2 separate regions of the Homo sapiens genome follow, and region 1 is linked to region 2. The links come from fine-mapping of genetic effects on gene expression. A gene starts in region 2. The other region holds a variant in brackets. All regions are shown on one strand. Distances are between the middles of the regions.

Region 1 (2,915 bases), 76 kb before region 2:
TACTGGGACAGGTCTGAACTGTTGGGGTCAGAGTTCGGTACTTAGTAGTCACCGACTTCACTAATAGAAGTGCGCAGGAGAAGGTTGCTACTCTCCCCTGTGCTTTGGTCTCACAGGCAAAGCCTTCTCCAGACTGTCCCCTGGGCTGGGAATCGCGCCCAGAGTCACGGGCGGCCAGACCCACCCCATGTGTTCCCCGGCGCGCTCTCCAGTGGAGCTTCCCTAGGAAAGGAGACCGTCCCGAGAGGCTGTGGCGCGCCTGGGACTCCCCGACCCTTGCCACGACATCCCTGCCACCCCTTTTGGCGTGAACCCACCGGGGATCCCGCCCGACGCCGGCTGCGCTGGGCCAAATCCGCGGCGCGCCTCTGCCGGGCACCTCCCACCTCCAGCTTCGCCCCTCCCCTCTCCCGGCCGCGCGTCCTCCGCGGCTGGTTCAATCCCCGCGGGGACCCGGAGCGCGGCTGCCGGTCTACGCCCTCTCTCCTGCCGCTCTCGCGGCGCAGCCCGGCCGGGGGCCCCCGCGCGCCGGCAGCTCTAGGGGCGAGCGCGGCGCGCTGACTGGGCGTGCTCAGCCGCGGAGCGCCCGGGCGCCGCTAGAGCCAAGCGCATGCACTCGCCGGGCCGGGCCGTCCAGGGGCGCAGCGCGCAGGGGGCCGCTCTAGCCGACGCCCTGGCCAGTCTGGGCAGGACGCGGGCCAGGATGGCCTCCCTCACCGCATACGGTAACTGGGGCCGTCGCGGGTTCCTGGGGCGGCGGGGCGGAAGGGAGGGGCCCAGGGAGCCGTCGAAACACCCGGGGAAACTTCGGGGTTCGCCTCTGCGGAGGGGTCTGGAAGGGAGGGAGACGGCGGCCGTGCGCGCCGCTCCTGAGGGGCCGATGTTCCGCGGGGTTTCGGGCCGCGGGTAACCCGGGAACCGGGTGTCTGCGGGAAAAACGCTTCAAAATTTGGGAGGATCTGGGAGCTTCGGGACTCTAGAAACATTCCCCTCGCTTCCGACCACTCAGGGGAAGGGACGCGGGTGTTAAGTCCTCCTCTAGCGGGGTGAGGCTTGGAGTTGGGAGATGTGCGTTCAGCCAGCGCTTATCTTGTCCCTGACTGACCTTGGGCAAGTTATTTAAACTTTTCAGCCTCTGCATTTCTCCGTCTGTAAATCAGAGAGATGAGAACATCTCTCTGACAGATGCTGTGGAGTTAAAATAATATGCACTGTAACATGTTTTTAATGCAAAAAAAGAAATCAGTTTGGAAATAAAAGTTTATGAAAAAGGAAGGCATTCATCGTTCCCCTGCCCATTGTTTTGTTAAATAAATATATATGAATAGACATATACATATATACATGTGTGGTATTGCATGGTTCTGAAGGAAAACAAAATCACTGTGTGAAGGTTTCAGGCTCAGCTAGAAATCCTAGCGCGCTGGGGAAGCCAGCAAGGCTTCTTATCAACGTTCTTGCTTGTGTGGATAAAGCAATTCTCTTTAGCCCTTTATCAGAAATACTGCTGAGACTTGGTTATAGGAAGCAGAAACTCAAGTAGACCTCCCTCCCTTCCTCTTGCTTGCAGTCAGTTGTTG[C/G]GATAAGATCTAGATTTGGCATTTTAAAGGGGAAAGCTGTGAGCAATTGATGGGGAATGTTCTGCAGGGACATCTCAAAGCCTGGGATGGGTGGGACGGAAATTACTATTCTTTGGTGTGGAATCTTCATTCTCTAGGCCAGTGATGTCCCCTGCTCATTTTACCAAGGTTAACAGGGTCAGTCTCTTTCTCTGGATTTAAATTGTTTAAAATGATCATTTAGGTGGCTCAGAGGGTTTGCAATTGATGCCTGGGAACCAGTAACAAATTGTGAGCAGATTACAAATTTCAGTCTGGTGGCCTGTTTTTTCTTTCCTCCAACCCCCTTCCCCCGTGCTCAGAACATTTTTGCTGGGATTTAAGTTGTTCTTACCTGCACGCACATTTAACACTCAACATTGTGGTTCCTGGGTTACCATCTGGGGATAATTCAATATGCTGATGGCATTTTAGGCATATTCATTGGCAAAACATCTATTTTTACACCTTTTCCTATCAGAGGGATCTAACTTCTGTTTTTTTACATCATTTTAGATTTTGTATGCTGCCCCATGGATACTGTCAGTAATAGGTTTACGTAATGATCAGTTCTGTACGTTTCTAGAAGCTTTAAAAGCTTAATTGAGCACCCAGGTGGAGAAAATGAAGTCAGAATAAGTGAAATCATTTTGAAAAGAAGTATATTTCAGTAATTAAAGGAAAAAGGTGGCAGATCTTTGTTTTTGGTGATTAAGAATTACACAGGTTTCTCATTAGACCCTTAAAGAGAACTGAAGCATATTTCAATAAAAATATCAATTAGAATTTCTGCTTGACACATTCTCCTCCTGCATCCATCCCTAAAATGATGCATATACTTGGCCACAAATTCCACGTTAATTCTTAGATCTGTAGCAGTGTGAGCTAAACCATGACAGAATAAATTAGTCCATCAGGGTTTTCAACCTAGTGAACAAGTTAAGGAGAAAAACATTGAGCACATTTAATACATTCTTCACCCACTGGATACTATTGAGATCATTATCTGATGAGAGCTTGGTCCAGCCCTGGAACCCTCCGCAAATCTTCTCTTTGACAATTGAATTCCTTGTAAAAAATGTCCCCTGTCAATTCTGTTGGATTTGGGTTTAGGCATCATGATGGGGGATGATCTAAACTTTTTGCCTGGAATTTATAGGGTTCAATTTTTGTGTTTAATTGACTGATTTAATAAATGCTTTATTCTTATCTTTAGCACAGGGGCTGCCAAGAGAATGAACAGTTACACTGTAGACCATGTGTTTTAGGTTCACAAGATGAGAGAGAAATTTGGCTTATGTAGGCATTTCATTAGCA
Region 2 (2,915 bases):
TTCTTCAAATGTTTGCTGATTTGAGTTGAACTGAGGAGAATAACAAAACAGCATTTGAGAATCAAAGTCTCCCAGGTTTTCCTTATATAATTTACAAGGACTTCCCTGGCAAACTATCCTTTCTTCTTCGTTTAAAAAATTTCACTTTATTATGTTCATCTTTGATGTGGAACATTTTTTATGGCCTTCTGCTGTGACTCATTTTGGTGCTGAGTTATCTGCTTCCTTGGAGCTCAGCCCTTCCTTTTAAGCTGTGGTATTCAGGCTCCCCAAAGTCAGCTTGCCTACGGGTAGAGATCACAGCAAAATGTGCAAATGGTATTCCAACTTCTAGGTAAAAACAGACAACTAAAATTAAAAACTCTACATCATGTAAGTCACCTGGAAAAAAAAAACAGAAAACAAAACCCGAGGGCATTTGTATATTCCTGTTAACTCTTGACTGACTAAAGGGAGTTATCTTTTCTGCAGTGATAAAAAGGTGGCCCAAGACAATCTCCCCATCTTACAAAAAGTTCTGAAGTTTTACTGTGGAGTCCAATTAAACTGGCATTTAACTTCAGAAACTACATCCCTATATAATGTAATCATCACAACCAAATACAAATTAATTAATATATATGGACAAAGTTTATAAGTTCAATATTAGAATAGGGGAAAAGGGAAGTAGGAAAAGTTTAGAGTCCTCCACGCATCCTTCATTTATCACCAAGAGATTTGCTCCTTTGCTCCTTCTGTTAGTGTAAGTCAGAATTTCTCAATTTTCAGTGTGTTTATGAATTGTTATTATTGTTTATCCCAAACACATATTTTGTCTTATAGGTGATTTAAGAGCTCTAAAAGGGACATGTTAACTATCTTCAGAAGCTCACCTCTAACAATATTTCTATACCTATATTATACAAGAAAACTAATGAAGATTGACAGTCAAATTCCTGGAGAGACCTTTGACCCTTCTCTGTCTTAAATTTTTCACTTCTGAAATAGAAAGCCGGGTCACTGGTCATCTTATCCTGCACTTTGGGCATAAAGAAGCTTAGGTCCAAAGCGCCATTACTGTACTCATGATGACCCCTTGAAGGCACATCAGTAGGGCTGTCTGGACTGTGACATGCCATCAGACATCATTTAGGGGACTTCAAGTCTGGCTTCTTGCAGAGATGCTGTGGGATGCCTCAAAAACTTCCTGCATGGCTAGTGTAACTATGGGGCTTTAGATCTTTGTTAAATACAAGCAAACATTAACAGCAGCAGTGGAGAGGATAAGTTGCCAATCCTCCCAAATTTCTTTTCCAGGCAGGGGGTTGTCCTGCCGCTCTCAGAACTGGCTGTCATCTGCTGCTCTCTTGTCACACTGACACGGCCCCCTGGCTGGGCTGATTGGTCGCTGGCAATAACTGATATGGAATACTGATGTTCTCTCCGGCAGTTCCTTCCACTCTAAAGAGACTCCTTTTCATCCCTCTTCTCGCCTTTCCTAGCCCAGCCTAGTGCCCACCCTCCCCCGACCATGCCTCCCCTGCACCTGGGGAGGGGGAGGACCAGTCCTGGGCGTGATGCTCTGAGACGGTGGTGAAATCCACCAGGCTGCTTTCACTCCGGCTCGCTCTCCGGAGAGTCCTGTTCCAGACTTCTCAGGGTTTTTACAGCACAAACAACTGCATACGGCCCGAGGGGAGGCTGAAAAGGACTTGTGTGTGGTGGTTTTATTGCCTGTCATCACTTTGCTGGCCTCCTCCCGACTGGAGCCTGGAGGTTCACAGTGGATTTCTTTCTGCCGAAGACACCAAGGCACTGAGGAAGGATCCCTTCTCCTTCTGTTGACTCTTTCTATTTTTATGGTAAGTGCTTACGTTGAATGAGCTGCTCTGTTGCTGCAGTGAACTGAACCGTTCGTTCCCCCTCTTCCCAGCTAAGCTTAGTGACCTTCCTTCTGCATTTCCTCTGTTTTCATGGATCTTGTCTGGGATGATCCAGCTTCAAAAATGCCAGGGGTCATTTGCCTGGAGTGTTTGTCTTTTTATCTTTTTTCCATAAACGTGAGCTCTTCTGCTGTGATACGAATATAAGTGCTCTGTCTTTGTCCTTGAAGCAGCAGCCGGGGAAATGTGTTCACGATGGTAAACTGCAGCAGCGTGCAGGGAATCTGTGGAGGATGACTGACAAATTTGGGCAGGATGAATCCTCAGTGTGCCAGGGGCACTCACTCAGGATCAGAAGGGCCGGGGGTGACCTGCCCACATAGCAAACTCTTCCATCTTTGTGGATAAAGATGAGCACACACGTGTGAGTTATGTTGAGTCTGCTGTGGGCAGCTGTGTTTTCTGCACCTGCCCGTGTGGGTCTGGGATGACCCTATATCTTGTGGGGTTTACAACTTGGGCAGGAACATTCTCAGCAGGAGGAATCCTGAGCTGGCAGACGGAGTAGACTGCATGACCTCATTGCTTCTTTCCCTTCTGAGTCTCAGGGTACCCAGTTCTGCAAACCATATTTTACAGGCTCTTCAGAGAGTGGTAGGGCAGTGATGACAGGAACATTTTTGAGTTGACAACATAGTTTTGTCCTCCTGCTAGGAGATAAAATACTTTGAGGTTATTAGAATGGTTAGACTTTTCTAGGAGAACATAAGCAGGTTTCTGACGAAGACTATGGATGTGGCAGATTGTTTATTCCAGGGACATTACTCTTACAATAGTGCTCTAATTTTTCACCTGGTCTCCTGAGGTTTGCTGCAAAGAGCATCACAACTTCAAGTCTATTACTGGCAGCTTCTTGACGCCCAAAGGAAACCAAGAACATTTTATTAGTTTCACTCCTGTGCGTTGCAGGAGTCTCTCTTAACAGGGATTTTTTTTTTTTTTTTTTGGTAGCAGGTGTGTCGAACTATTTTGGTCAAAGCATCATTCCAAAGA

Evidence for each region.
Region 1: its variant is fine-mapped to the expression of ANO4 in fibroblasts (GTEx, PIP above 0.99). The same link has a PIP of 0.9 or more in testis.

Annotation. Positions count from the first base shown.
Region 1 is chr12:100,716,823-100,719,737 of GRCh38, forward strand. It overlaps a transcript of ANO4 not described here. Among named protein-coding and RNA genes, the nearest start is that of ANO4, 76 kb to the right of the region's middle. The variant C/G (reference allele first, on the strand shown) is at 1,581.
Region 2 is chr12:100,793,187-100,796,101 of GRCh38, forward strand. It overlaps ANO4 (anoctamin 4), which reads left to right and starts at 1,590. Exons shown (of 28, transcript NM_001286615.2): 1 at 1,590-1,841.